Regions from separate parts of the Homo sapiens genome. Here all the other regions are linked to region 4. The links come from fine-mapping of genetic effects on gene expression. A gene starts in region 4. Each other region holds a variant in brackets. All regions are shown on one strand. Distances are between the middles of the regions.

Region 1 (7,823 bases), 91 kb after region 4:
ATAAAACTCCAGAATTGTTTTGTTAACTAAGGGATTGTTTGTTCCTGAGATTCTGATTGGGACGTGCTCTACTTTAATTGCATTTGTAGCTGGAGAGACCAGTGCTGAGTAACGCCCAGCCCCGGGCCCTCCCTTTACCCTGGGAGCCCAGCGTGCTCATCCGTTCCTTCAAGTCCTCTTCCTTCTTTTTCATTGGCTGGGCACGGTGGCTCATGACTGTAATCCCAGGACTTTGGGAGGCCGAGGTGGGTGGATCACCTGAGGTCAGGAGTTTGAGACCAACCTGGCCAACATGGTGAAACCCTGTTTTTACTAAAAATACAAAAATTAGCTGGGCATGGAGGTGGGCGCCTGTAGTCCCAGCCACTCTGGAGGCTGAGGCAGGAGAATTGCTTGAATCTGGGAGGCGGAGGTTGCAGTGAGCTGAGATTGTGCCACTGCACTCCAGCCTGGGCGACAGAGCGAGACTCTGTCTCAAAAAAAAAAAAAGTTAATTGTTTCCTCCGTGTCATTCCCGCACCCGTGAATGAAGATGGTGACTCATAGTTTTTTTTTTTTTTTTTTTAAGTTGCAGTAACTTTGGTTTCTGGTGCTACCACTACAGACCTGAATCTGGGGCCAAGAGGGAGCAGCTTTCACCCCCTTCGTTCCCTCCACTCCCTACTCCACGAGGTGCAGAGATGTAGGAGCTACCCGGAAGGCCGGCTGCCCACGGGGGTGAGAATTGTTAGAAAGACTTCAGTCCTCCCCGGAAGAGGTCCCTGCAGGCTAAGGAACTTGCTGAGCATCCCCGCAGCAAGCTGGCCTTGGCGGTCATGAAGCGACTAGAGTACCTGAACCCTGCGAGGCCTTCTGTCACCCACTAGCCAGGGAAGGAATAGGAATCCGGGCTGTCCACCTGTCAGTATCTACTGTGGCCCCACCATGGGGAGGGCCCGATGTTTGCAGATGTAAGCTGGCTGCAGTCACTCATCCAGCAGACGGGCAGGTGCAGTCTAGTAGACCCACCAGCACCCTGTGCGTGGACACTCACTGGAGGGTCGAACACTGAGAGCTGCGGGGACTGCTTTTACCTCACTCACTGCTTTCCTTAAAATCCGGGTGTCCTCAGCTTGGGCCAAGTACTGAGCCTCAAACAGGGCAATGTCTTCTTCCAGTTGCTGGGCTCGAGTGGTGAGCTGGTCCACATACAGGTCCTGGGAAACAGGATGAGAAGCAGCCCCGTCAGGAGGTGCCCGTGGCTGAGGGCCTGTTCTCCACCAACCCTTGATACAAGTTGACGCCACCCAGGCCGGCCGCCACCCCTCCGGCCGGAAGCCTTCACGCAGGAGGCAAAGCTGAGCCCCTTTTTGAAGCTCCACGGTCTGGTGATCATTAAACATGTGTCGAGTTTGCAGAATACCTGCTTTTTCTTCTCGATTTCTGCCCGGATCCTCTCCGTCTCGGCCTTCTTTACCACTTGTGTCATCACGCGGATGTCGTCACGCATGTCCTGGTCGATGTTCTGCATGTAGAAGAGATGCAGGGCCAAGTTCTCCATCTCAGTCTGCAGAGCCGCCACTGCGGGGCGCGGCGGGGGAGAAAGAGAGAGAGAGTGAGTGGGGAGGCTGTCCCAGCGTCCCCCATGCAGAGACCCAGGAGGAAGCAGGGAACAGCCGTTCTGGGCACCCTTCCTGCCATTTTTGGGTAAGACTGGGAAACTGCTTTTAAACTATCAAGACACAGACTTTGTCAGCAAAGAGTTTACAGTCTCTTGGAAGAGACAAAAATATACGGAATCTACATCCACAAATTGCAGCAAGCTGTTCCATTCCCCACCAAGTCTCAGAGATCCTCCTGGTAGTCTAAGGATACACTGAAGTAGTGCCAGGTGGTAAGGCTTCGGGTTGATTGCATAGATGTCTTACCACTGAAAGGCTGGCAACCTTAGGTGGAGTCTTAAGTCCCCTGGGAGGAGACGAGAACATCCAGGGCAGGCTGAGCTCCACAGATGCCCCTGCACTGACACCGCTGCACAGCAGTGCAGGCCAGAGAGGACGAGGCTAGAAGAGGCAGCAGCTTCCATCCTGTCCCAAGTTAAGTGACAGATTTATGTCAGTGCTCTCAGAGGAGGCCAAGGCCCGAGGAACTGATTCCTTTAACAAAACTTGCATGAGATGGATTTCTTTTTTTTTTTTTGAGACGAAATCTCGCTCTGTCGCCCAGGCTGGAGTGCAGTGGCGCGATCTCGACTCACTGCAAGCTCCGCCCCCAGGGTTCACGCCATTCTCCTGCCTCAGCCTCCCGAGTAGCTGGGACTACAGGCGCCCGCCACCACGCCCGGCTAATTTTTTGTATTTTTAGTAGAGACGGGGTTTCACCATGTTAGCCAGGATAATCTCCATCTCCTAACCTCCTGATCCACCCACCTTGGCCTCCCAAAGTGCTGGGATTACAGGCATGAGCCACCGCGCCCGGCCATGAGATGGATTTCTAAAGCTGGAGTGCAAATTTATTGAGGGAGCTACACGTGGGTCAGTACTTGCTTGCTCACTGCACAGAGCACTCCCTTTCAGTGGCTGGATCCAAACAGAAAACTGAATTACAGGCCAAAAGGCTGCTGGACGCATATCATCCTGGAGCCAGGTGTGCTCGAAGGATACAGCTTAAACTTGCAAAGCCATTTTGGCTGGGTGTGGTGGCTCACGCCTGTAACCCCAGCACTTTGAGAGGCCGAGGTGGGCGGATCACTTGAGGCCAGGAGTTCAAGACCAGTCTAGCCAACATGGTGAAACCCTGTCTCTACTCAAAATACAAAAATTAACAGGATGTGTTGGTGCACGTCCGTAATCCCAACTACTCAGGAGGCTGAGGTGGGAGGATCATGCCACTGCACTACAGCCTGGGTGACAAAGTGAGACTCTGTCTCAAAAAAAAAGCAACCTGTGCATTAATATAGCTTGCAGTAGCTAAATTCCAAAGTAATTTCCTCTAAGTTCTCTTTGAGGACTTGCTATTCTTCTTTTTTTTTTTTTTGAGACAGAGTCTCACTCTGTCGCCCAGGCTGGAGTGCAGTGGTGATCTCGGCTCACTGCAAGCTCTGCGTCCCGGGTTCACGCCATTCTTCTGCCTCAGTCTCCTGAGTAGCTGGGACCACAGGTGCCCGCCACCACGCCCGAGTAATTGTATTTTTTTTTTTAGTAGAGATGGGGTTTCACCATGTTAGCCAGGATGGTCTCGATCTCCTGACCTTGTGATCCGCTTGCCTCGGCCTCCCAAAGTGCTGGGATTACAGGCGTGAGCCACCAGGCCTGGCTAAGGACTTGTTATTATTCTTAAATATTTCTTTCATTATCCTTCCTTTTCAAAATTGTCTTGGATATTTTTGTGCATTTAGTCTTCTAAATGAACTTTAAAATCAATTTGTTGAGAATAAAGTGTTGTTGTTCTTGTTGTTTTCTGAGACAGGGTGTCACTTTGTCACCCAGGCTGGAGTGCAGTCGCACAATCATAGCTCACCGCAGCTTCAACCTCCTGGGTTCACCTCAGCCCCCCAAGTAGCTGGGACTCCAGGCACATGCCACCATGCCCGGCCAATTTCTCATTTTTGTATTTTTTGTAGAGATGGGGTTTTGCCGCATTGCCCAGGCTGGTCTTGAACTCCTGAGCTCAAACGATCTGCCAGCCTCAGCCTCCCAAAGTGTCAACACTACAGGCGTGAGCCTCCGCACCTGGCCCGAGGTGCTTTTTGTTTTGAGGTGGAATATCCGCAGCACGTGTTGCTAAGGGACAGCAAGCGAGGAACCGAGCAGTGGGTATAATATGCAGCCATTTAAGTTAAAGAGAGAGAGAGAGATACACATACACACACACCCTTGTGACTTTGCTTAGATATGCAAAAAATCTCCAAAAGACTCCACAAGGGCTGAACACAGTGGCTTATGCCTGTAATCCCAGGACTTTGGGAGGCCGAAGCAAGAGGATCACTTGAGCCCAGGAATTGGAGACCAGCCTGGGCAACACAGTAAGACCCTGTTTCTACCAAAAAAAAAAAAAAATATATATATATATATATATATATATATATATATATGAAAATTAGCCAGGCCTGGTGGTGTGTGTGTAGTCCCAGCTACTTGGGAAGCTGAGGTGTGAGGATCACTTAAGGCTGGGAGTTCGAGGCTACTCTGCCATTGCATTCCAGCCTGGGAAACAGAGCAAGATGCGTCTCGCTGTCTCGAAGAAAACAAAAACAAAAAGAATCCACAAGAATCTACGTTGCCTCTGCGGAGGGCCCTGGTGGCTGGGTGGGGGAAGGGGAAAAGAGACGAAAACTTCCTCTTAGTTGTAGAGCTCTTGCATTTTGAATCATTACTTTTCCAAAATAAGTAAATAATTATGTTGAATAAATTTAAGTTCACCCAAAACATCTCACCACGGAGGGTAACGGGAATTGCAATGGTTTTATTGCTAATTTGGAGGGAAATGGCATTTTTATATCATGCGTCTTCCCAGCTGGTAACGTGGGCACTCCATTTATTTAAATCTGTTTTATGACCTTTCATAACATTTATTGTTTTTTTTCAGACAGGCTCATCATTCCTTGTTGGATTTCTTCCTGGACTTATTTAAAAGTTGTTATAGCTATTATGAATGAGCTTTTTTAAAAATTGTAATTCCTAACTATATTACTGGTGTAGAAGAAAACTACAGAGCTGGTATCCAGCTACTTTATTGATTTCTTACTGTTTCTATTGGCTTTTATTTTTCATTAGTAGAGGTTGAGAATTTCAGTATTTCATTCCCAGATCCATATCTCATTTCTTTCTCTTGTTTTCTTTGCGTTGCTGGAGCCTCCAAAACAGTCTGGGGTAA[C/A]TGCTATGCTAGCAGGCCTCCTCATCTCATTCCTGATTTTAAGTCTAGTCTTTCCACTGGGTAACATTTTCTTGTTAGTTTCTGATAAATACTTAGAACTCTCCTTCTATCCTACTTTGGGATGGATGATGAGTTTTATTAAATACCCATTTGGCACCCACCCAGGAAGCCTTTTTTTTTTATCCTTGTATTTTGTTTTATTTGATTTATTTATTTTTTTTTTTTGAGACAGTGTCTCACTCTGTTGGCCAGGATGGAGTGCAGTGGCACAGTCTCGGCTCACTGCAACCTCTGTCTCCTGGGCTCAAGCAATTCTCCTGTCTCAACCTCCTGAGTAGCTGGGATTACAGGTGCCTGCCACCACACCTGGCTAATTTTTTGTACTTTTAGTAGAAACAGGGTTTCACCACGTTGGCCAGGCTGGTCTCGAACTCCTGACCTCAGGTAATCTGCCCGCCTCGGCCTCCCAAAGTGCTGGGATTACAGGCGTGAGCCACCACATCCGGCCTCCATTCTTTAATTTATAAATATAATGCACAAAATTAGTAGATTTCCTAATTGTGAATTATTCCTGTGTGAATTCTGGAAGTAAATCCTACTTATTTTTGCTAACATTTTGTTCAGGATTTTCACTCCTCACATGTGGGGCCGCTTTACAGTTTCCTGCTTGTATGCTGTCAGCGTTTGCAGCCAGCCTTTCACTAAGCATTGCAGGACCAGCCTGTGGGGAGTTTCCGGAATCTTCCATGCCCTGGAGCTTTGATAACACAGGAAGTGTTTGTTCCTTGAAAGGTTACTAGAAGCCTTCCATAACATCTTCCAATACTGGTGCATTTAGGGAAAACAGATTTTTGACATTTTCAATTTCTTGCATGATGAAACCAGTACAATGCATAGCTTTCTTGCAATTAAAAACAAAAAACAAAACAAAAAAAACCCTCCCCCAAGTTGTCCTCATTCCCAACACTGTTACTTGCATGATCTCCTTTTTATTGCCAGATAAGCCAGCAGTGTGTAAGGTTTATTGGTCATTTAAAAAAAAAGCAGTTTATTTATCAAGTCAATTCATTTTTTATTTATTTCATCAGCTTCTGCTTTTGATCTTTATTGGTTTATTTTTCTGCTTCTTTCAGTTTATTTCCCTCTTTTTAGCTTCTCGAATAGAATGTCTGTTTTCAGGCTTGTTTGTGGAAATGTAAATAAACTCTGTCATGGGTTTTGTCTGAGCAGATTTGGCTGCAGCCAGAAGTCTTCATGCGTGGACTTCCCGTTGTTGTTAATTTCCAGAGTCTAACTGACATGTAGGTCAAATGCTAACCATCCTTCTCCCTTAGAATTCTGTATGCATTGGGAGGCCAAGGTGGGCGGATCACGAGGTCAGGGGTTCAAGACCAGCCTGACCAACATGGTGAAACCCCGTTATCTACAAAAATACAAAAATTAGCCAGGCATGGTGGCGGGCCCCTGTAGTCCCAGCTACTTGGGAGGCTGAAGCAGGAGAATCGCTTGAACCCGGGAGGTGGAGGTTGCAGTGAGCTGAGATCACGCCACTGCACTCCAGCCTGGGCGACAGAGAGAGACTCCATCTCAACAAACAAACAAACAAACAAAAAACACAAAAAAGAGAATTCTGAATTCTGTATGCATTGACATCCTGCTATTTAAATTTAAGATCTGTGATTCTCAGCCCTGGCTGCAAGTTAGCATCATCTGGAAGCTTAAGGGTCAAAAAGAAAGCCAGAAACAAACAATGCCTGGTCCTTCCCAGAACAAACCAATCTGAAATCTGGGCTGGGATAGGTCCTGGTGGTTTTGAGCTCTCCCTGGTTCCTCCAAGGCGCAGCTGATGGAGGCCTTGATGAAAGCGTAGCCCAGGCCCGGCCTCAAGAGGCCATCTGGGTTTTCCCGCCTGGAAGCCTGCAGCATTTTTTCTTTTGCCGTGGTATTTGGAAATCCCACCAGCTATGTCTGCGGAGGTTTATTTTCTCTTTCAGCTGCATGGCCCGTCACGAGTCTTTCTATCTGCAGATTCGTCTTTCCTGAACTCACGCATCTGTTCTCCTGGACATTGGCTATTGCCTCTCATCTCCTGAAATCTCCCTTTCGGACACTGATTCGATTTCCCTAATCTGTCGTCCATGTCTTTTACCTCCTCCTCAAGATATCAATCATTTGGGGTTTTGCTCTATTTCCAGGGAAGGTTCCTCGAACTGGCTTTTTAGTTAAGAAATTCAGTTTTCAACTGCATTCATTTGTCTAGTTAGTGCCTTTTGGGGGGATGATGATTATATTTTTAAATTTCACGTACCCCTTTTCCTAACACTTTGTTCTCTTTATGGATGCAATGTCCTCTAAAATCTCATGAGACTACCAGTTGGCGCCTCTGCACACTCTGGGATGATGATTATATTTTTAAATTTCACGTACCCCTCTTCCTAACACTTTGTTCTCTTTACGGATACAACGTCCTCTAAAATCTCATGAGACTACCAGTTGGTGCCTCCGCATGCTCTGTTTTTAGAATCAGGGCTGGGTTTGCCTGTCTGTCCGGCTCAGTCTCCTCTCAGGTCTGGGGATCTCGGGTTGGTAACTCATTTTGGTGTGAAGGTTTAGTGTCGGTGATGGTTAATACTGAGTGTCAACTTGATTGGATTGAAGGATACAAAGTATTGATCCTGGGTGTGTCTGTGAGGGTGTTGCCAAAGGAGATTAACATTTGAGTCAGTGGCCTGGGAAAAGGCAGACCCACCCCCAATCTGGGTGGGCACCATCTCATCAGCTGACAGTGCGGCTAGAGTGTAAGCAGGCAGAAAAATGTGAAAAGAGAGACTGGTGTAGCCTCCCAGCCTACATCTTTCTCCTGTGCTGGATGCTTCCTGCCCTTGAACACTGGACTCCAGGTTCTTCATTTTTGGAACTCAGACCGGCTCTCCTTGCTCCTCAGCCTGCAGACGGCCTATTGTGGGACC
Region 2 (7,823 bases), 29 kb before region 4:
TGCCTGGCTTCTTTTTTAATTTTTGTAGAGATGGAATCTCCGTATGTTGCTCAGGCTGGTCTCGAACTTCTGGGCTCAGGTGATCTGTCTACCTCAGCCTCTGAAAGTGCTGGGATTACAGTCCAGCCTAAAAATGATATTTTAAAAATCATTTCCTACAAATGGAAGTGTGTATAAACAGTACATAGCATCTTTGCATGATACTTCGTGCAGACAGCAGCTTTACATCAACAGTGCCTTCAGTGTTAGCTGGAACTTCACAGAAACTATCGTTCTGTGCAAGGCTGTACGGCTTCTGAGGTTTCTCATACTGATACATGCAGCTTGATACATGCATGGTCCTTTAAACTGTGCACTGGATTCAATGATATGAATAACCACAGTGGACTTACGCTCCTGTGGGAGGATATCAGGTTGTGCCTAATTTTTCTCCACTGCTCACAGAGCTGCAGCCACCGCCTTTGTTAATCTCCTGGGCACAGATGGGAGCGATTCCTTACAGACCCATGAATTCCTGTGACTTGATTCTTTTCATTTGGAAGGAGAGGCTGGACCACTGGAGACAGATGCCTCTTGCAGGGATCTGTATGCTAAAAATACTTGAAAATCAGAGCAAATCAACACCTGTCATCTGAAAAATGGAAAATGGGCCGGGGCCAGTGGCTCATGCCTGTAATCCCAGCACTTTGGGAGGCCAAGGCGGGCAGATCACCTGAGGTCAGGAGTTTGAGACTAGCCTGACCAACATGGTGGAAACCCGTCTCTATTGAAAATACAAAAATTAGCCAGTCATGGTGACGGGTGCCTGTAGTCCCAGCTACTTGAGAAGCTGAGGCAGGACAATCACTTGAACCTGGGAGGCAGAGGTTGCAGTAAGCTGAGATTGCATCATTGCACTCCAGCCTGGGTGACAGAGTGAGACTCCATCTCAAAAATTAAAAGATAAAAATAAAACATGGAAAATGATCGTTGGAGAGTCGTGTGTGCAGGAGCAGCGCCAGAAGCCGTCCCAGGAGCCGGGTCTCCGGAAGTACTCACCAAGGTTCTCAGGTTTGCTTTTGCAGGAGCTCCGTGCAGCAGGGTGGGGTCCACAGTCCCCGCAGTGTCTCCAAAGCCCAGTGTGGTGCCAGCTGCCTCCTTTCTCTGCGGGCTGCTGGGTGGGACGGAGCTGGGCAGAAGGAAGAGCCTGAAGTCAAAGCAGCACCAGGTGAATTGACCGTGATTTCAAAGCCATGTGACCTGTTCCAAAACTCAAGGTTCGGTCACAACCACCGCAAGCGGCGGGGAAAAGACGTCAGACTCGGATCCGGGAAATAACTCGACGGACCTTTGACCCCTGTGGTTTTCCCAGTAACTATTGAAGCTTCCTTAGCACTTGGAAGCAGACTTCTAGAATGGACCTGGGCTTTGAACCCTAGACTACCAAGGAGAGTTGACAGGCGCAGTAGTTATCCAAAGCACCCACAGGCCTGTCTGCGGCTCCCCACAGGGCCAGGCCACTCATACCCTTCTGCTGAGTCTCCTTGCCCGGAAGGAAGAACAGCTGGAGAGGACAGTGACGGGCGCAGAGGCCGGGGTGGGCAGGTGAGGAGGAGAGGAGAACCAATCGAGGGCAGCTCTGCCTCATTCCTTCTGATCTCAGTCCTGTTTCTCACTGGAACAGGTGATTGAGGCTTGCGAGTCAGGGTGTCACTGATTGTGGCCCCCCGCAAAAGAATGCTGAAGTCTTGACCCCCAGTACCTGTAAGTAGGACCTCATTTGGGAATAAGTCTCTGCCAACGTAATCAAGTTGAGGTCATTAGGGTGGGCCCTAGTCCAGGGATGGGTGCCCTTATAACAAGAGGAGAAGGGCTGGGTGTGGTGGCTCATGCCTGTAATCCCACACTTTGAAAGGCCAAGGCGGGCAGATTGCTTGAGCTCAGGAGTTTGAGACCAGCCTGGGCAACACAGTGAGACCTTGTCTCTGCTAAAATCTGCTAAAAAAAAATTTTTTTTTTTTGAGACAGAGTCTTGCTCGTCTCCCAGGCTGCAGTGCAATGGCACAATCTTGGCTCACTGCAACCTTTGTCTCCCGGGTTCAAGCAATTCTCCTGCCTCAGCCTTCTGAGTATCTGGGATCACAGGTGCATGCCACCATGCCCAGCTAATTCTTTATTTTTAGTAGAGACAAGGTTTCACCATGTTGGCCAGGCTGGTCTCGATCTCCTGACCTCAAGTGATCCGCCTGCCTCGGCCTCCCAAAGTGCTGGGATTACAGGCATGAACCACTGCACCTGGCCTAAAAAAATTTTTTTTTTAATTAGCCAGGTGTTGTGGTGCACACCTGTAGTCGCAGCTACTTAGGAGGCTGAGGTGGGAGGATCGCTTGAGCCTGGGAGGTGTAGGTTGCAGAGCTGAGGTAGTGCCACTCCACTCCAGCCTGGACGACAGAGCAAGACCCTGTCTTAAAAAAAAAAGAAAGAAGAAGAAGAAGAGGAGGAGAAGGGCCCTAGGCCTAGACACCCCATGATCACCCCATGTTGGCAGAGGCCGAGACTGGAGTGACACGCCAAGGGTCGGTGGCAACACTAGAAACTCAAGAGAAGGCATGAAGCAGACCCTCCCTGGAGCCTTCATGGGGGTGCGGCCCTGCTCACCCCTGGAGTGTGGACTTCTGGCCTCCAGAACCATGAGCAAATACATTTCTGTTGTTTTAAGCCACCCAGTTTGTGGTAATTTATGACGGCAGCCAGAGGGAGCGTGCACAGGGGCAAAGGCGATGTGGAAATTGTCCGTCCATCTCCAGGGATGCGCTGCCAATGGGCACACTCCCACAGAAGGCTCCTGAGCTCCTGGGCCTCCACCCAGTAGAAGCCTGCGTCGCTAGAGTCTGACTCCAAGTCAGAATGATCCTCTGCCCCACTTCAGGACCAGCTATATCGTCTGTGGAGCTCAGGGCAAAATGAAAGGATGGTGCGTTTGTTTTAAAAACGTATTCAGAATTTCAAGGCAGCAATAGCGAGCAATAAAGTCAGCCCAGGGCCCCCACTCCAGCCCTGCCCTGCATCACCGAGGGGTCTTCAGGCCCCCTGTCTATCAGGATGTCAGGATGGTAGCTAAAGGTAGGGGATGTTTCCTTTACAGATGATGGAATGTCCTAAAGTTAACTGTGGCGGCGATTGCACACATCTGTGAATACACTAGAAGCATCTTAAACGGGTGAATTGTGTGCCGTATGGGTTATAGCTCTTCCTTTTTTTTTTTTTTTTTTTTTGAGACAAGGTCTTGCTCTGTTGCTCAGGCTGGAGTGCAATGGTGCAATCTCAGCTCACGGCAACATCCGTCTTCTGGGCTTAAGTGATCCTCTACCTTAGCCTCCGGAGTATCTGGGAATACAGATATGTGCCCCCATGCCAGGCTCATTTTTTTTGTTGTTGTTGTTTTTTGTAAAGAAGGGGGTCTCACTATGTTGCCTGGGCTGGTCTCAAACTCCTAGGCTCAAGTGATCCTCCCCCCTCAGCCTCCGAAAGTGCTAGGATTATAGGTGTGAGCCACTGTGTTTGGCCGTGAGTTATATTTCAACAAAGTTGTTTAAAAAAAAAAAAAAAGATCCAGGCTTGGTGCAGTGGCTCATGCCTGTAATTTGGAAGGCAGAGGCAGGAGGATCGCTTGAGCCCAGGAGTTCAAGACTAGCCTAGCAACATAGCACGATCCCGTTTTTAAAAAAAAAAAAAAAAAAAAAAAAAAAAAAAAAAAAAAAACGATCCGAGAGCAGCTGGCAATCCCACCCTGCCTCCTGCTTCCCTCTCTCATCCCTGCCAGGAAGCAGGAGGAGGGTGGGCTGAGGAGGTCCCTGCAGTGCCCGGTTCTGCCCCTGCCACCCCAGGGCCAGGGCTGGGGG[T/A]CCACAGTGCGTGGGACACCGGCACCCACTTTCCTTTCTCTTCGTTTTCAGCCTAGGCTGGGCCCCCATCCCAGCCAGGCCCTGCCTGTTCAGCGTCCCCACCACAAGCGGGGTTCCTCTCTTGCCAGCTCCTGTTCTCTGCCTGGAGGTGTCGGGCAGGAGCACGTGCTCTGGGCGTTTCCCTGCCAGCCTCCTCCCTTCCATCCCCTTGGCTTCCTCATTCCAGAATCCCTGTTCACCTCAGCTGACCCTGTGACCCCCTAGGAATGTCTCTGGCTCCTGCAGAGGCGTCTGGGCTTCCCCTCACGCCTTCTTAGAGGACAACCAGTGGGCGCAGTCGCTCTGTCACGTCAAAGTCTCCAGATCAAACCCAACAAAGGATCAGGGCAGCCTCCTGTACCTCCCTCCCCAGCTCCTGGTGAAATGAACCAAATGTTGCGTTTTAAAAAGTTAAAAAAATAAATAAGTGAATAAAGCAGCAACCACAAAATGAGGAAAGGAAAACAACTTTTCTGCCACAAACTGAAAAATAGCAGGCCGGGCATGGTGGCTCACACCTGCAATCCCAGAACTTTGGGAGGCTGAGGCAGGCAGATCGCTTGAGCCCAGGAGTTCAAGACCAGCCTGGGTGACATGGCGAAACCCTGTCTCTACAAAAAATACAAAAATTAGCCGGGCATGGTAGCGTGAGCCTGTGGTCCCCAAGCTACTTGGGAGGCTGAGGTGGAAGGATCACTTGAGCCCGGGAGGCAGAGGTTGCAGTGAAATGAGATTGCATCACTGCACTCCAGCCTGGATGACAGACTGAGACCCTGTCTTAAAAAAAAAAAAGAAAGAAAGAAAAAAGAAAAATGGCAGACAAGCCCTGAAACCAAAGGAGTGCTGCCAAGGGGCACTGGGGGCACAGGTGCCAGCGCAACCCTTAGGGACAGACTGCGGGAAGAGAGGGCTTCAGCATCCCTCTACTGTTTGGGCAGCTGAAGAGAAGTCTAGGGAAGTCAGAGAAAACGCCCCAGAGCTGCCTCCAGCTTCCCTGGGAGTCCTCAGCAGGAGTGGGGAGGGGGCTGTACTGAGCCAGGAGAGAACCCAGGCCCGGCTGTCCTTCTCAGCGCAGGGCAACCACTGGATTTCTTTAATCACACATCCAGGACTAAACTACGGTGGGAATAGAGTCTTCCAGCCAAATAAGAAGATTCTTTACCCTAAGAAATAATGCAAGCAGTAGAAATCGGGGTAGGGGGTAGGGGAAGGAAGGCATCACTTTATCTTCCATGACCCTGTGCTATCTAAAATAAAGGAAGTCCAGGCGACGTGGCTCACGCCTGTAATCCCAGCACTTTGGGAGGCAGAGACGGGCAGGTCGCCTGAGGTCAGGAGTTCCAGACCAGTCTGGCCAACATGGCAAAACCCTGTCTCTACTAAAAATACAAATATTAGCTGGGTGTGGTGGTACATGCCTGTAATCCCAACTACTTGGGAGGCTGAGGCAGGAGAATCGCTTAAACCCGGGAGGCAGAGGCTGCAGTGAGCTGAGATTACGCCACTGCACTCCAGCCAGGGAGACAGACCGAGACTCCATCTCAAATAAATTAATAAAATAAAACAAAACGCTGATTTTATTTTATTGTATTTTCCGTTTTGTGGAGAATGGGGTCTTGCTATGTTGGCCAGGCTCTCAAACTCCTGGGCTCAAGCACTCCTCCCGCCTCTGCCTCCCTAAGTGCAATGATTACAGGTCTGAGCCACCAAACCCAGCACTGTTGATTTTACATAATGTCACTAATTTATCAAGGTTTTTGTAATCTCTTATCTGAATCTTGGGGATTTTTTAGGAACTAATAGTTCTTGTCATTGTGAAACTGTTCTACTACATTTGGCATTCCATTATTATTTTTAACAATTAAAAAATATTTTTTGGCTGGGCGCGATGGTTCACGCCTGTAATCCCAGCACTTTGGGAGGCCGAGGTGGGCAGATCATAAGGTCAGGAGTTCGAGACCAGTCTGGCCAACATAGTGAAACCCCATCTGTACTAAAATACAAAAAATTAGGCAGGTGTGGTGGTGTGTGCCTGTAATCCCAGCTACTTGGGAAGCTGAGGCAGGAGAATCACTTGAACCTGGGAGGCAGAGGTTGCAGTGAGCCGAGATTGTGCCATTGCACTCCAGCCAGGGTGACAGTGCGAGACTCCATCTAAAAAAAAAAAAATGCCGAATCTGGATGCACTGCCTATGAGTTAGCCCAGCTCCTCAAGGAGCAGTACATAAAAAATAAAAATAATAAAAAAAAACTTTTGCCAGCAACATCTGAGCTGAACTAAAATTTAAGTAAAATTAAAAGTTTACATTTCAATCATGTAGAATATGATACCATTTTTATAAAATGGTGTTAGTTTATCTCTGGGAGTCCCTCAATCTATGTGCCCATCCATCCATTCATCCAATCTGCCGATCAGTCTGTCCTGTCATTCCGCGCGCGCGCGCGCGCGTGTGTGTGTGTGTGTGTGTGTGTGTGCATGAGAGAGAAAGAGAGGGGGAGAGAAATGGAGAGGCAGAGAGCAGAGGGATTCTGGAACACTCCTCACCAATGCTAATGCTTGCTGTTCATGGTGGTAGATTGTAAAGAAATCTGTTTAGGCCTGGTGCGGTGGCTCACGCCTGCAATCCAGCACTTTCAGAGGCTGAGGCAGGCAGATCACTTGAGGTCAGAGTTCGAGACCAGCCTGCCAACATGGTGAAACCCCATTTCTACTAGAAATAGAAAAATTAGCCGGCTGTGGTGGTGCTCGCCTGTAGTCCCAGCTACTCAGGAGGGTGAGGCAGGAGAATCGCTTGAACCTGGGAAGTGGAGGTTGCAGAGAGCTGAGATGGTGCCACTGCATTCCAGCCTAGGAGCCAGAGTGAAACTCTACCTCAAAAAAAAAAAAAAAAAAAAAAAAAAGAATGTTTAGAATAAGCAAGTATGGGTTCAATAAAAACCATAGTCATTATTTTAGAAAACAATAAAATTAATCCAATTGATGAAACAGAGAAGGAGATGGGCCTCATCCTAGAAGTGTTCGCCACAGAACACTGGGGTCCTAGGTTGTCTGGGACAGTCCTTTTATGACTCTTGTCCTGGAGTAATGATCAACGGTGCCACCTTTCTCTCTCAATACAGACTCGGTTTAGGGGGCATCATGGCAAGGGGAGGCGAAGGCACGCCGACGCCGAGCTCCTCCAGCTACAGCGGGGACACCAGCAGAAACGTCTCCTCTCCTGCTCCCCTCAGCCCCGATGAAAGCGGCACATGGAGAGGGTGGGAGCCCAGGGGATGACAGATACTGGCTGAAGTGGGGAAAGTTCTAGAAGAAGGAAAGCGGGAGGAAGTCTTGGCTGGTCTAGGATGCATCAGTCAGGAAGACAACTGTTTCTTCCCCTCAGGGCAGGATTTCTCAGCTTTCTACTTAGTGAAGGAGAGTGCAGCATCTTTATAAAATCCCAGTATTTGCCCCCAAATCTCTTACGAAACATCTACTTCAATAGGCATTCGGCCTGAGCCTAGAGGTTCCAAGGCAGATGGAAAATACAGGTGTCCCTAAACAGTCGCCTACAAGGCCTTTCTTTGGGGCCAATGGCCTTGTGATTAAGTTGGTGCCAAAGAGCCAATGACTGAAAAACTAGGGCTTACCGCAGTATAATGTTTGTTTCTAGCAAATGACACTCTGGCACGCTCTCCAGTATCTTACTATATCGAGTTGCCAAGGGGCCACATCTCCAGCTTGCAGCTGAAACCCTGGGAGTTCTGGACAGCCAGGTCTCTGCGGATATCCTGAGGACCAGGACTGGTGGTCAGCCGAGGACTACAGGTTTCTCGGGTGCCTTCCTGGGGCTGGGTCCAGGTGGCAACGACCGGGTCTGGGAGGGTCCTCTAGTTGGATTGTCCCTCTGCCCCTGACTTGCC
Region 3 (7,823 bases), 940 kb after region 4:
AGACCCCAGCCCTTCTCCCTGGGGCCATTTTTCTGCTGTCTTGTCCCTGGCATGGTCGAAGATGCCCAGGTGGGCCCGTCTTTGGGCGCTGGTCAATTTCCCCAATGCAGCGGGACTCCAGGAGGGAGGGTGCTGGCTGGTTGTCTTCCAAGACCCCAGGAGACCAGAGCTTTCGGGAGCTTGGCCTGGCCACAACCTCCTGGGCCCGCTGGGGGAGTTCCTTGTGGGCAGGGGTCTCATCTGTCTTGTTCCCCCCCACGTATCCCCGTGCCCAGCAGTCAGCCTGGCACAACCCAGGTGACCAGGAGAGGTGCTAAGAGAGGGCCTAACCGAAAGTCCAGGGCTTAAGGGAGGACCAGGGCAAAGCGTTGTGGTTGCTTTGAGGAGAGTTACCAGTGGTTCTGGTAAAGGGATCTAGAAATGCCCCAACCAGCAGTGAGAAGTCATATTAGGATTGGAGGAGTCAGGGCTGGAGATGGACCGGGGTACAGCCCTGCCGGAGCCTGGGACTCTGACCTTGGGGTATCTGCAGCTGCCTCCCTGTCTGTCCAGCCCCCCGGAGTCTGAGCGTGGGAAGGAGGCATCCGCAGGGGATGAGTAGCAGGGCTCTCCCAGGCTGCTGGCAGCAGCGACACGGCCCCTATCCCTGTTAACTGCACGCCAGCGTCCACCTGGAGCCAGTCCCAGCAGCTCTGCTGAAACCTGGGTTCAGCATACGATGATCTCAAAACTTAATTATGGAAAGAAGTTGGGATTAAGGACCCTTCCATTTATCTTCCTGCCTGCTGTGGCTTGTCAGCAGCTCGGATCTGGAACGTCCTGCTCATGGTTCCGGAGGCTGAGCGGGCAGGAGGTGGCGGAGGCTGGCGTTGGCAGGGTCAGAGGCACAGGCTGCCGTGTGCCAAAATGAGCATCCTGATTCAGGGCTTGTGCCTCCCCACGACGGAAGCCACAGCCACCCACCAGACCAGCCCGCATCGGGCCGTGCTGCCTGCCAGGAAGCCTGTGTTCCCACCGTCTGCTCCGTGGCCCAGGACTGAGACCGCCGGACGCTGGAGAAGGTGTTGGAACCTCCAAAACTCGGCACCCTCATGGTGTTTTGGAGCTCCTGCTGTGGGTTGCACCCTCTGCCCAAGCCGCACACCATAGCACATGTGAGTCACGCACCCCACCTCTTGCTGTGTCTCTGCAGGCAACCTCCTCCTGTTTATTTGTATGGGACAAGAACTATATGCGGACACCTGTGCAGGACACTGGGGATACCGAGGTGGCCCATCCCTCTGCAGAGGTGCTCACTGCTCGCTGCCTAGAGGAGACCAGGACTGAGATCACCGGACGCTGGAGAAGGTGTTGGAAACTCCAAAACTCGGCACCCTCATTGTGTTTGGGAGCTCCTGCTGCGGGCTGCACCCTCTGCCCATGCTGCACATCCCCACCAGGCACCAGACGTGCAGATGGAGGGTGGTAGGGCACTCCTCCACATCACCTACCCCAGCCCCATCTCTTGAAGGGCAACTGGCAGAACAGGACAAGAGCCACCCGACCCTTCAATTCCATAATCCCGCCCCGGGACCATATCCCTGAGAAATAATTCAAAAGATGAAAAAAGCTGGACGTGCCAAGATATTTATAGCAGCAGAAGAAACCCCTCTGGCATCATCTTACCTGTCCGCCGTAAAGGGATAGTTACGTGAAGTATGCGGCGGGCACTCGATGGGATATTGTGCGGCCGTGAGACCTGATGGGTAGGAAGTCCCCGTACAAGGGAAGCCGTCTCTGTATATCATCAAGTGAAAAAGCAGGACCCCTGATTACAGCGAGGTGAAAACTATAACCGCATGGAGATGAAGAGCAGATGCAGCCAGAGAGAAATGAAGACGGTGGCATTAGCGTGAAGACGCCGGGGGTCCAACTCTGAAAAAACACTGAAGAAATAAAAAAAGTTCACAAAAGAATAGCCTCCCTCCTTGACCAGGCACCTGCCCATTGCCCTAACCGGGTGGCCCCCTGCACTCCCCACTCCATATCCCTCCCCCCAGGCAGGTACACTCTTCCCTCGGGCTCCAGAGGTTATCTAGCCAGGGCAGAAGCTGAGCCTGTGTGTCTGTTGTTTTTGCAGGATTTGCTAAGGCGCCTCTGTGCGCACACAGAAACGCTGTCCTTTCTTTTCTTTCTTTTTTTTTTTTTTTTGAGATGGAGTCTTGCTCTGTCGCCCAGGCTAGAGTGCAGTGGCGTGATCTCGGCTCACTGCAAGCTCCGCCTCCCAGGTTCACGCCATTCTCCTGCCTCAGCCTCCCAAGTAGCTGGGACTACAGGCGGCCACCACCACGCCCGGCTAATTTTTTGTGTTTTTGTTTAGTAGAGACGGGGTTTCACCATGTTAGCCAGGATGGTCTCGATCCCCTGACCTCGTGATCCACCCGCCTCCGCCTCCCAAAGTGCTGGGATTACAGACATGAGCCACCACGCCCGGCCAGCGCCGTCCTTTCATAGCACATGTGAGCCATGCACCCCACCTCTTGCTGTGTCTCTGCAGGCAACCTCGTCCTGCTTATTTTTATGGGACAGGTACTATGTGCAGACACCTATGCTGGACACTGGGGTACCGAGGTGGTTCATCTCTCTGCAGAGGTGCTCACTGCCTAGAGGAGGAGAAAGTCAAGTCCCCAGTATGGGGAATGAGAGGCCACACCTGCGGTGCCGGCCACATTTTGTTCCATGGTGCTTTGGAAGTGGGAGTTCCGTTTGGTTCAATGGGTGTGTCCCGAGTGCCTCTGTCCTGCCTGCCACACTCAGCCCTGGAGACACAACAGGGATGAAGCCTTGTCCCTGCCCCCTGGGAGGTCCCGGAGCTGTGCATTAATAGTTACAGAGCAGGTGCAAACATGGTGATGGGGTTCAAACAATGTGGGCACCCAGAAGGAGGCACTGGCCTGCTCCTGGGATGGGGGCACATCACAGAAGGCCTTGTGCAGGAGGGCTGGCCCAGCCACATCACCAACCACAACTCACATGGGTGGCCTGGTGGGAGAGGGGAGGAATGGGCACGTACAGAAAGAGCAGCCAGGGGCCGGGCGTGGTGGCTCACGCCTGTAATCCCAGCACTTTGGGAGGCCGAGGCAGGCGGATCACAAGGTCAGGAGATCGAGACCATCCTGGCTAACACGGTGAAACCCTGTCTCTACTAAAAAAAAGTACAAAAAATTAGCCGGGCGTGGTGGCGGGTGCCTGTAGTCCCAGCTACTTGGGAGGCTGAGGCAGGAGAACGGCGTGAACCCGGGAGGCAGAGCTTGCAGTGAGCCGAGATCACATCACTGCACTCCAGCCTGGGCGACGGAGCGAGACTCCGTCTCAAACAAAAAAAAAAAGAAAGAGAGAAAGAGCAGCCAGGGTGGAGATGGGAGTGAGGTCCTGTGGGGCCCCTTAAGGCAGGAGCAGGGCCCTAGGAGCAAGCGTGGGGACACGGTCAGAATAATTCTGGCTTCAGACAACATCTCTCCACCAAGAGCCTCCCCTCTGCCTCTGCCTCTGCCTCTGCCTCTGCCCGGGAAGGGCCTCCACCAGCCAGGTGGGCATCTTTCACTCAAGGTTGCTCAATGCCACTTGCCTGGCACCCACACTTCCATGAGAAGATGAACAGCTGACCGTGTTTTCAAAGATACCACCTGGGGAAACAGCCAGAAGCTGGAAGTCATCCCAAGAGAGAAGTCAGCCAGGGGTTGGAGACCCCAGCAGAAGGCAAGTGCCTCTTTTCTCTTCCTTGACCCAACCTTCCCGACTGACTCCCAGCCCCACCCCTTCCCCGGACTGCTTGGAGGGCCGAGGGGAGCCCCTTTGGTTTCCAGGCGGTCGAGGCCTTTGGCTATTGGCTGGGATGGCCTGGCCGGGTGTGTGTGTGACAGAGACAGCCTGGCTGGGCAGGAAGGACCAAGAGTCTTGGTTCTGTGCCTGAATCCTGTCTTGAGAGCCACAGCTCGGGGCTGACAGCTGGAGACCCGCACTGCCAGCAGCATCTCAGCTCTGCTGTATCCGCTTGGTTGTGGTTCTACCAACAGAGGGGAGAGGGAGTGTTTCTGCAGTGACTGTAAATAAGCCTTTCCCTCCAGACGCAGGAAGAAGGGCGTGAGGGGAGAACAAAGGGAGGGAGACACCAAGAGCTGGCCAGAGAAGGGCCACCTT[T/C]CACCCAGCCCAGCCGAGGCTTGCCGAGGCTCCCGCGGTCCCGGACTTGTGGCCCATACTGTTTTAAAAGAAAGGGCCAAAACATTGATTAATTGTATAGCTAAAGAAATAACCATTCCTCCTTTTGGGGGCAAGACTGGCTGGCCGCAAAAGAGCTGAGGATGAGCAAGAAGAGAGAAGGGGAGGGAAAGGAGGTGTGAGCGTGCAGGAGGCGCTGCCTGGAGGTGCCCTGGTGTGCACCCCAGTCTCCAAGTGGCCGACGGGAAAGTTCCTGAAGGCCAGTCCTCCCCAGAGGGCAGCACAGAGACTTGCAGACACCCCCCTAGAAAAGGGAAGGGAGCTTAGGCCCGCGAGAGGAGGGCGTGTTCCAAAGTTTCCTGTTCCTGGAGCTTGTCCCAAGAAATCCCAGATCCCTTTGCCCAGTGGGCTGACCCCACAGCCCATAGGCCCAGGGACCCAGCCCGAGCCTGGCCACAGGGAATAACCCGAGAGGCTTCTTGGTAAAGCTTGCAAGGGGCCCTGGTGCCACGCTGGGAACAGTGCAGGCCTCGCTAGGGGTGGAGCAGCATCCAGGCACCTCTGACCGTAGCTCCCTGACTCTGGCCTCAGGCCACTGAGCAGGTGGCTAATCGAGGGACACTGGGGGCCTCACTCAGGTCCAGCAGTGAGTTTGGGCACATGGAGAGGAAGTTTCAACTCTGTACCTGTCCTGGTGACATGGGAAAGGAGCGTTTCATTCCTGTTAAATATGAACCATTAAGCCCAATAAGCTCATTAGACCATGGGTGATAATCTTCTTCATACTTTCCTCTGTTTTCTGAATCGTAAAACAACCCTACTAATTATAATATTAGGCAGAGGCACTTTTAACCCAGTAAGCATTTGGAAACTCTTCTACTGGGGAGACAGGCAAACAGAGAAAACTTGCATGGCTTTTTTCTTTGCATGGGAAACTTCAGATTTCAAATCTTGTCTGTCTTAGTCTAGAGTTTTCTCCCCAAAGCAGAGTTTGAGACAAGGGCTTGCATGCAGGAGGTTTATTTTGGGAAATGAGCCAAAGGAAAGGGGGCTGGGAAAAGTGAAATGGGGAGGAAGAAAGCCATTCCAGGTGTACTATTGAGTCAATGAGATGGGGAGTGGTTCCAAGACTCAATCCAGTTAGGACTTCTCTGAGGAGTGGTGTAGAAGGCACTTTCTGAGCTGCCCACCTGAGGGATAGAAGAGGGAAGGTTGCATCCACCAGCTGCCATAGCCCACAGCGCAGGGTGCACCATGGGGTGTTAACTGGCCGGCACATTCAGGTTTGTTCCTGCCAGGGGACAGCTGAGCAGTGGTGGCCTGGAGAGACTCACTAAGTCAAGTTGTCTTCAGGCTACATCTGTGGACAGCTGATGGCTGCAGCAAAGTCTGGAGTGAAAAGCAGGGCTTAGAGGAGACAAGGTGGACACAGGAGGCATCCGCTCCCGCCCACTTCTTGCACCCCTGTACTATGTCCAGCTCATCACAGAGTCTTCAAGATGACGGCCAGCCTCAACCATCTTGAGGAGTCAGTGCTGTGTCTCTCAATGAGACTTGCCGGAGACTCCTCACACAGCCTTATCCGCCACAGTGTACGTCGGGCACCACTGGGATGATGTCACTGCATCTTGGACCTGCTATAGAGCCCTCGTTTGCTCTGGGACCTACTCAAAACGGATAGCCTTTGGAAGTGTTAGGCTAGAGCTGTATTCCCAAGGGGAATATTTGCTGCCTCCAGCATCCAAAGAGGCCACCAAGTTCTGTGCCCCTCTCTTGGTGGAAGGAGTGCAATGATTTGCTTTTACATGATCTTCAAGGGGATGTTCCAGAAAGCCCCAGACTCTAAATATTTCATTGACGTGGCAAGCTGTAGACCTTCTTGCTAGGCTTTACCTCGCACCCTCTGACACACAGGTCTTCCTCAGGCATTAGCTGGACTTGCTCCTTCCTGCCCGTCTAGCTCAATGAGCCTGATTTCCTCAGTGTATCGGATGAGCATATTCTCTGGAATGTCACAACGGCCAAGGTCCCTGCAGACTATATTGTGGAAAAGAGCAAGAGAATGATTGCAGCCTTGCAGCAAGATAGGAAATGTGTATTGCTGTCCTTCCTATGTAAAAGCAAACTACTTTAAGGAAAAAAAAAAAAAAAGCCAACTGCTTTTGACTCTTTATGGACATGGACTGGAAAATACATTTTCCATATCAATCACCATATACCAAGTAATAGAGGCTCTGTCGAGCTATTCCAGTAAATACAACACTGCTGTGAATAATTGGAGGCTGCTGCTTGGTGAAGTTTCCAGTAATCCACCATCACCCACTCTGATTCATCTGGTTTTTGTAGGGTTCTGTTTTGTAGGTGAATTGAACAAGGATAGGATGGGGACCTCATCCTTGCTTCCTTTAAGTATTTGATAGTGGATATAATTTTTGCAAGTTCCCTGGGGTGTACTGTTTTTTCTGATTTCCTGTCTTAGCTGGGGGTTAGGGAGGTTTTATAGGCTCCCATTTGGCACTCCTACGTCAGGGAACTCATATTCAGGTTATGCTAGATGCTAAGTGTAGCCATCCAAATGCAGACTCAGAGACCAGAGAACAAACCACAGGATGGGTCCATGAGCCTGACAGACCTGCTGTAAGATGGATGTGGTTCAGGATGTCATATATCCCTGGGTTTCTGTGGACCCCCACTCTAACTGGCAGAAATGATGGTGTTTTCATTTCACAGGTATCAGTGTCTGCTCTAACCATGTATCCTCCTGCCTGCAAAACTTCTGCTAGTCCCCTTCCCCAGGACACAGGTTCTCTGGCAAGTATCCACAGGTCCATCTGGGGAAGGATGGGGATGCTATCATTATAAATATTGCAGTGCATTCCTAAGCCCTACCTGGTCTTCCTTCCACCAGTGGGCTCTGACTGGAGAACTGCCTTAGACCTGGAACTGGATATGGTACTGCAGTTTCCCGTTGTGATGACTGAGGAGTTCTCTGCTCTCTAGCTCTTGATTTTTTCCTGGCTATATAAGCCAAGCAATACCCTACTTGGCCACCCATCCATTTCATCCCCAGGAACACCATGGCTTATTAGCTGCAGACTTCTGTAGTTCAAAGCACCCTGGTCATCTCCAAAGCCTGGCTGACCACGGTGGTATTTAATTCCAACTTGCCTCTGATGGTTAAATGCAACTATCTGGCCCCTGCTATTCTAGAATCTTCTCATCCTCACTGATACTAAGGAGCCCAGTTAGTGGCAGCATCTCCTAATGGCAACCCTAAGTGAAGGCACTCACCACGAAGCTTTCCAAATGCCTCAGCGGTCCCCCACCCCAGAATTGCATTTTTTATTGCCTTAGTGGAGGGAATGTCCCCCATACCCTTCTGGGACACAGAGTCATCTAGTGGGTTCTCTGTTCACAGCATCTGGGGCCTTCGGACCCCTTCTTTAATACTCCACCAAAGTAGTTCCAGCGCGTCGACCTCGTTGACTGAATGCTGTCGGTATGTGTGCGCTTCAAGGAGCTGTTCACTGGACTGGTACGCGTGTCCTTTCCAGGATATTAAGCCCTGAGTCATGAGAAGTTACTTTCACGTCAGTAATCTCTCCTCTGTTCAGACTTACATTCTG
Region 4 (7,823 bases):
AAAGTGCCAAGCAAAGGGGGAAGAGCCCCTTATAAAACCATCAGATCTCGAGACAACTATCAAGACAACAGCATGGGGGACTCATCCCCGTGATTCAATTACTCCACCTGGCTTCTCCCTCGACACGTGGGGATTATAGGGATTATGGGATTACAATTCAAGATGAGATGTGGGTGAAGACACAAAGTCTAGCCACGTCAACAACTTTTCCACAGGTGGTGGAAAAAAATTCTTCCAGAGATGGATGGGGTAGTGGTTTCGGGATGAAACTATTCCACCTCCCATCATCAGGCATTAGATTCTCATGAGGAGTGCACAACCTAGATCCCTCGCATGTGCAGTTCACAACAGGGTTCACACTCCTCTGAGTCCAGTGCTGCTGCTGACAGCAGGCAGAGCTCAGTTTAGCTCCCTTGCTTGCCTCCTGCTGCACCGCCTGGTTCCTAACAGGCCACAGACAGGTGCTGATACTGGTCCGTGGCCTGGGGTTTGGAGATTCCTGCTCTAAAAAGTGGATTTACCCTCATCATCCCAGGGCCCCTCAGCCTCTAAGAAAAGAGGCCTCTTGGTCACAAAGGTGGACAGACCCATTAAGCTCTGGGTGAGCAACCCCGTCTCCAGCACCTCATGTCCCACAATGTTTGTGTGTTGGGGAGGGGTCCATCTCACGCGATTAATCTCAAGGCAGGAGAGCCCATGTCTGTTTTATGCCCCATTGTTTCCCTAGAAAGCATCGTTCACCCAGAGACTGCAGCAAACCTCAGCAGCTCTCATCATTGTCACATTGTCATAGACTCTGGGCTAAAAAGCTACTGCTCCCCAGAAAAGTTAGAGCCCTTTAAGATGTGTGTTCAGACACCTGGCATAAACAACATTTCCAGAAAAATGGTGTAAAATGTTAGATCATCTAGTCATAAAAATATGAAGGAAAACAAATCTAAGCAGTTTGTGGATTAGATTTTAACTTTGAACAAGGTGAGAGGCCTGGTAGCTCACACCTGTGATTCCAGCACTTTGAGAGGCTGAGGTAGGAGGATCGCTTGAGCTCCTGGGCTGGGGCCAGGATGTACGGTCCTCAGTAAGGCTTCTGAATAAAACTAACTTTAATTCTTTAAAAGCTTAACTGTTTTTCTTTAGTCAACAAGGTATTTTACATTCTTCTCCTACGTTAAGTCATTGAAATCTGTGTGTATTTTACGACAAAGCGCTACAGCACGGCCTGGCAAACAGTGTGAGGCACGAAATGATCCTTTGTAGAGTGAGGAAGGTATCAGAACTTACATTTTATTCAGCTTTATAAATATTTAATATTTTGGGTAACACCAGCATCCTTACAAGGAATGTTTATCAGAAGGTCAATTATCTGTCATGGATAAATTCTGGTGCCAGAATGAGATTCACTCTTGGAGAAGGCTGCATTTACTTGTTCACCCTTGAAATACTGCAATCCACCGACTTCTTGATAAAAGGATGCTCTGGTTTTCTGTTTATTTTTGAGATGGAGTCTCTGTCGCCCAGGCTGGAGTGCAGTGGCGCAATCTCGGTTCACTGCAACCTCCACCTCCGGGGTTCAGGAGATTCTCCTGCCTCAGCCTCCAGAGTAGCTGGGACTACAGACACCCGTCACCACGGCCAGCTAATTTTTGTATTTTTTTTTTAGTAGAGATGGGGTTTCACCATTTTGGCCAGGCTGTTCTCGAACTCCTACACTCATGATCCGTCTGCCTCGGCCTCCCAAAGTGCTGGGATTACAGGCGTGAGCCACCAGGCCTGGCCAGGATGCTCTGGTTTTAACTAAAATTAACCTTCATAAAAGGAGAGCTTTTCAAGCACTCCTAGAAAGAAGCTGTGGATTAAAGATGTGCCCAGCGATGCAAGCCAGATTTGTGACCATAAGAAAGGACAGGACCGGGCTCATGCCTGTAATCCCAGCATTTTAGGAGGCTGAAGCGGGCAGATCATGAGGTCAGGAGTTCAAGACCAGCCTGACCAACACGGGGAAACCCCATCTCTACTAAAAATACAAAAATTAGCCGGGCGTGGTGGTGCATGCCTGTAATCCTAGCTACTCAGGAGGGTGAGGAAGGGGAGTCGCTTGAACCGGGAGGCAGAGGTTGCAGTGAGCCAAGATTGCGCCACTGCACTCCAGCCTGGGGAACAGAGCGAGACTCTGTCACACACACACACACACACACACACACACACACACAAAATAGCGGGGCGCGGTGGCTCACGCCTGTAATCCTAGCACTTTGGGAAGCCGAGGTGGGCGGATCATGAGGTCAAGAGATCAAGACCATCCTGGCCAACATGGTGAAACCCGGTCTATACTAAAAATACAGAAAATTAGCTGGGCGTGGTGGCGCGTGTCTGTAGTCCCAGCTATTTGGGAGGCTGAGGCAGGAGAATGGCGTGAACCTGGGCGACAGAACTTGCAGTGAGCTGAGATCGCGACACTGCACTCCAGCCTGGGCGAACCGAGCAAGACTCCGTCAAAAAAAAAAAAAAAAAAAAAAAAAAAAAAGGACAGAGCTGGCGCTCGTGGAAATACAATTTTCCCAAAGTTAAAAACATGATTCTCAACAGCATGAACTGCCCTTCAAAGATGATGGAGCTGCTTCAAAAGGCGTTAGAGGAGCTGGGTACGAAGAAGCACTTAAAGTGTCAGATAAGAAAGCGGTTAGTGGCTGCGCGTGGACACCTGTGGTCCCAGGTGCTCTGGAGGCTGAGGCGGGAGGATCGCCTGTGCTCGGGAGGTGGAGGCTGCAGTGAACCGAGATCGCGCCATGGCACTCCAGCCTGGGCGACAGGGCCAGACTGTCTCAAAACAAACAAACGAACAAACAAAAAGCAGGTTAAGATGCACAACTGGTTAAAGTTCTGCTGGGCAATTAAAAAATGATCCCGTCTGGGTTATCTTTGCTGCAGGACACGCATTAGCAGCACCGTCTACTGACAAGTGGCCTTCATTAAGAGCAAATTGCAGGCTCAGCATGTATTTTATTTATAACAGCTGCTTGCCGGGCACAGTGGCTCATGCCTGTAATCCCAGCACTTTGGGAGGCCAAGGCAGGCGGATCACCTGAGGCCCCGCAGTTCAAGACCAGCCAGGACAACCCTAACCCCCGCCTCCCCCAACCCCGTCTCTACAAAAAAATTTAAAAAATTAGCCGGGCGTGGTGGCGCGCGCCTGAGGTCCCAGCTACTCCAGAGGCTGAGGCGGAGGCTACAATGAACCCTGATCCTACCACTGCACTCCAGCCTGGGCGACGGAGCGAGACCCTGTCTCCAACTCACCAGGCAAACGGTGAAGACACACCCAGGCGCGTCCCCTAAGAGGGACGCCGGCTTCAGGGGCCCTGGCCCTCCCCAGCGCAGACCCGCCGGAGCCCAGCGCCGCGCCGGGGCCCACCACCGGCGGCCGTGAGGGTTTCCACTCGAATCTCCCCGGCGAGCTGGGCGCCTCCACTACGGGTCTGCGACGCAGTCCACCCACTGCGGGCCCGAGAGAGGACCCGTGCTCGTCATTTTTATTCGAGGCGGGGCTATCTGGGGACCCCGCCCGGAGCGGAGGCCCCTCGCGGCCCCAGCCTGTTTCCAGGGAATTCAGGTCCACACGCCGCTCAAAGAACCTCAGCGCCCCAGTCCGCGAAATCCCGCGGCCGGTACGAAACACCGCCAACTTTAGAAGTACCACCCCCTCCATCCCTTTCGTAAGGAACTGGGTGCCCCGCCCTCAACGAGATCCCGCGGGAACTGCATATGGCGCGAGAGCAGAAACACCTTACTTTTCCCTGCGGCAAACGCCCAGTTCCCTTTCACGTGACGAAGAGTGCCCCGTCCCCCAGAGGCGTGGCCGCGTCGCGCGTACGCACGTACGCACGTACGCACGCACGTCTCTCGCTTTCGCATACTTAAGGCGTCTGTTCTCGGCAGCGGCACAGCGAGGTCGGCAGCGGCACAGCGAGGTCGGCAGCGGCACAGCGAGGTCGGCAGCGGCACAGCGAGGTCGGCAGCGGCAGCGAGGTCGGCAGCGGCACAGCGAGGTCGGCAGCGGCAGCGAGGTCGGCAGCGGCGCGCGCTGTGCTCTTCCGCGGACTCTGAATCATGGCGACCACGGCCACGATGGCGACCTCGGGCTCGGCGCGAAAGCGGCTGCTCAAAGAGGAAGACATGACTAAAGTGGAATTCGAGACCAGCGAGGAGGTGGATGTGACCCCCACGTTCGACACCATGGGCCTGCGGGAGGACCTGCTGCGGGGCATCTACGCTTACGGTGAGCGGGCGCGGGCCGCGGGGGCCAGCCGGGGGCGAGTCGGGGGCGAGCCGGGGGCTGAGGGCCAGACTGGTGACTCCCGGGCCGGCCCTGCGCTCCGGAGGTCGTGGTCAGGGTCGAGGCTCGGGGGCCAGTGACGTCCGACCCCCACCCCCACCCCCGTCCTCGCCCTCACGCCTGGCTGTGTCGGCGCTTTCGGTGTGTGTCCCCCGTGCAGAGCTCGGCGCTGGGTCTGTCGGGGGCTGCAGCCGCTTCGAGGCACCTCAGCGTCCTTCATTCAGCAGATAACTGATTTCTACCTATTAGCTTTTCTAGGTACTGGGGTTTTGGCGGTAAACCGGAAGGGTTTGCGCCTTTACGGGTTTTGAATTTCGTTTGGGGGGAAAGCATACTGTCAGGTTGCCCAGGCAACCTGAAGAACCTGAAGCGGGGTAATTGAATAGAGTGGGACTGGGAAGGAGGAGAGAATTAGTAAAGCAGAGAGGTAAGGGGGTTCGCAGGAGGGGGTGCCATTTGAGCAGAGTTCTGGATGAAGGAGACTGTTATGAGAAGAGGGAAGAGCAGTTGGGGCAGAAGGAACAGCTGGTGCCAGGGCCTTGCAGCCCTTAGCCAGCTGCATTCCAGGAACTGAAAGAAGTCCCCTGTGGTGGGATTTTGGAGAGCTAGTCGGGGCAGATCTAGCAAAGACGTGTAGGGTGACGAATAATTTGAATTTCATTTAGAAATCTAGTGGGAAGCCAGTGGAAGGTTTTAAGTAGCTATGTGACACGATCACATTTACAGTTTTAAAGATTCTTCTGGGTGTCTGTAGATTTGAGGTGAGGCGAGGCAAGGCAGGAGAGGAAACAAGAGAGTTGGGAGCTTTTGCTGCAGTTCAGGGAAGAGAGGATTGTGCTGCCTTGGAGATGGAGTACCAGGGAGCTGACAGCATTGGCTGATGGATTGAACGTGAGTGACAGAAGGAGGAGAGTTGGAGTGTTTTGAGTAACCGGTGGTTGATGCTGCAAACATTTGGCTAGGTAGGCAGCACTCCAGAGAGTCAGAATCAGGAGCTGTCTCTTGGTATGTTTGAAAGATGTGAGGAAGTTGAGGGAGAGCCTGGAGAAGAGGTTGGGTTGGGCACATAGATGGGAATGACCAGCATCTGGGATAAATGGCCTGTGTTTAATGCTTGGGACAGGGACATTTTTTATCCTGTAGTTCTCTTCCTTTTCTTTCTTCCTTTTCCTTCTGACAGTCCTGCTCTTGTCACCAAGGCTGGAGTGTAGTGGCATGATCTCAGCTTATTGCAACTTCCACTTCTGGGGCTCAAGCGATTCCTTTGCCTCAGCCTCCCGAGTAGCTGGGATTATAGGTGTGGGCCACCACGTCCTACTAATTTTTGTATTTTTAGTAGGGAGGGGATTTTGCCATGTTGCCCAGGCTGGTCTTGAACTCCTGACCTCAGTGATCCACCAGCCTCAGCCTCCCAAAGTGATGGCATTACAGGTGTGAGCCACCCCACCTGGCCGTATCCTGTAGTTCTTGATGCCACAACAGTTTGGACAAAGTGAAGCGAAGTTGCTGAGGATGCGTGGTGAAAAAGCATCTCAGGCAGCCTCACAGTGAGGCTGACAGCCCCACCTGGTTTCCTGGCACTCAGGCAGTCCCTGCCCTAAGACACTGTTGTTAGTTTCCCATCTATGTGCTTGCTCTTCATGAAGAGTTTAAATCATCTGCTATATTTGCATTTGTGTTAAGATGGGAAATTGTGCTACATTTTCTTTTGTTTCTTATTTTTCGCTATGCCCCAGAACTGAGCAGAGCTACATTTAAGAGACTACCAAAAAATAATTGAAATAGAGTTTTTGTACATAAAATTTTATTTACTTGAAAAACACGTGGTTCTTCTTCAAAATAGCCTCACCCTTTGGTGTAGTAGTTGCTTTGCAAGAGAGATGGTGTGATGGTGTTGTAGTTAGTGAGCTGCATCCAGACAGAACAACATAGGACACCCTGCAGCGTGACCCACGCAGGTTAAACAGAGTTGTAGACCTGTCAGCAACACACAGACTTAATGCTAGCTAGTAGGAGAGAACAATGGCTAGAGTGACTTTCCTGTTTTTTTGTTGTTTTTTTTTTTAATTTAAAAAGTAGTATAGGTTGTTTGTAATCCAGTCAAACCTAAGGGAGTAATTAGAGTAAAAAGTAAGTTTCTTTCCACCCCTCTACTGCAGTAACTGCCAGGAACATTTTGGCACTTACACTTCCAGATGCTGCACACCCAGATTTTTTTTTTTTTTTAAACAAAACTGTTGTCTATATTCTACAATTTGGTGGTTTTTTAAAAATAGAGATTGGTCTTTACAAATAATATCCCACGTTAGTGTAGAAATCACTCAGCCCAATTCATTGAGCCCCTGGGTTTTGAGAGCTTGCTATGTTGAACACTGGGTTAGGCTGGAGGACAGGTTCAAAAAACAAACCATGTCTGCCCCTGAGGAGCTCACAGTACAGGGTTTCTATGCTGTCATTGTGGTGAGGGCTAATTTTTTGTTTTTATTTGCAGGTTTTGAAAAACCATCAGCAATCCAGCAACGAGCAATCAAGCAGATCATCAAAGGGAGAGATGTCATCGCACAGTAAGTTGTCCTGGGGTGCGGCGCAGGGCTGGATGTAAATTTGGGCAGCGCAGTGCAGTTAGATGCTCTGGGATGACTGTTTCCCTCAGCTTGTACACGCTCAGTTCCAACACTTTCCCTGACTTTAGCCACAGGGTTTAATACTTTTTTAAATTTGTGTTCTCTACTGTGGAAAGCTTTCATTTTCTTTTTGAGATGGAGTCTCGCTCTGTTGCCCAGGCTGGAGTGCAGTGGTGCCATCTCGGCTCACTGCAACCTTTGCCTCTCAGTTTCAAGCTATTCTCCTGCCTCACCCTCCCAAGTAGCTGGGATTACAGGCATGCACCACCATGCCCGACTAATTTTCATATTTTTAGTAGAGACGGGGGTTTCACCATGTTGGTCAGGCTGGTCTCAAACTCCTGACCTCAGGTGATCCACCCTCCTTGGCCTCCTAAAGTGCTGGGATTTCAGGCATGAGTTACTGCGCCCGGCCAAGGCTTTCATTTTCTTAGCCAGCTTTGCTTAGTGGTTTGCTGGCATGTGGAATTGTATATAACACAATTTCGGAAAAACAGACTGTGCTTTTCCTCTGCTCTCACACCACCACAACAGTCATCAGCACAGAAGAAGACTTCTGTGAGCAGAGGTGTGGGGCTTTTCCAGCTGGGTGTCCTCCAGTTCAACTCACACCACCTGCCTGGAGATAGGCCATATCCTGCAGGTTGACGGCTCAGTCCCCATGACTACCCTCTTTTCAGACACCAGTTATAAGTTCGGATCTCTAGAACTTCTGACCAAGCAGCTTCAAGTTGGGTTCCCAGGATCCCCTCTTTAGGTTGGATTAATTTGCTGGAACAGCAGCTCAAAGAACTCAGGGAAACACATTTAGTGGTTTATTATAAAGGGTACTGCAGAGGATACAGATATGGGGGGAGGGGTGCAGC

Evidence for each region. PIP is the estimated chance that this variant, and not a neighbour inherited with it, causes the effect.
Region 1: its variant is the best candidate, but not a certain one, in a credible set for the expression of EIF4A3 in whole blood (TOPMed, PIP 0.83).
Region 2: its variant is the best candidate, but not a certain one, in a credible set for the expression of EIF4A3 in whole blood (INTERVAL, PIP 0.51).
Region 3: its variant is the best candidate, but not a certain one, in a credible set for the expression of EIF4A3 in fibroblasts (GTEx, PIP 0.85).

Annotation. Positions count from the first base shown.
Region 1 is chr17:80,052,231-80,060,053 of GRCh38, reverse strand. It overlaps CCDC40 (coiled-coil domain 40 molecular ruler complex subunit), which reads right to left. Exons shown (of 20, transcript NM_017950.4): 8 at 1,403-1,560; 9 at 1,074-1,196. LOC124904074 (a long non-coding RNA gene) reads left to right here. Exons shown (of 2, transcript XR_007065931.1): 2 at 569-1,788. Among named protein-coding and RNA genes, the nearest start is that of CCDC40, 20 kb to the right of the region's middle. The variant C/A (reference allele first, on the strand shown) is at 4,855.
Region 2 is chr17:80,171,871-80,179,693 of GRCh38, reverse strand. It overlaps CARD14 (caspase recruitment domain family member 14), which reads right to left. Exons shown (of 24, transcript NM_001366385.1): 2 at 6,466-6,788; 3 at 1,039-1,186; 4 at 393-590. Among named protein-coding and RNA genes, the nearest start is that of CARD14, 5.8 kb to the right of the region's middle. RefSeq lists enhancers at 390-1,589, 1,263-1,763. The variant T/A (reference allele first, on the strand shown) is at 3,882.
Region 3 is chr17:79,204,364-79,212,186 of GRCh38, reverse strand. The region is part of intron 4 of RBFOX3 (RNA binding fox-1 homolog 3); the gene reads left to right. Among named protein-coding and RNA genes, the nearest start is that of ENGASE, 130 kb to the right of the region's middle. RefSeq lists an enhancer at 530-1,040. The variant T/C (reference allele first, on the strand shown) is at 4,180.
Region 4 is chr17:80,143,246-80,151,068 of GRCh38, reverse strand. EIF4A3 (eukaryotic translation initiation factor 4A3) reads left to right here and starts at 3,941. Exons shown (of 12, transcript NM_014740.4): 1 at 3,941-4,276; 2 at 6,825-6,897. The coding sequence starts at 4,108. RefSeq lists enhancers at 1,860-2,572, 2,573-3,286, 3,287-3,999, 4,000-4,714 and silencers at 3,283-3,472, 4,313-4,362.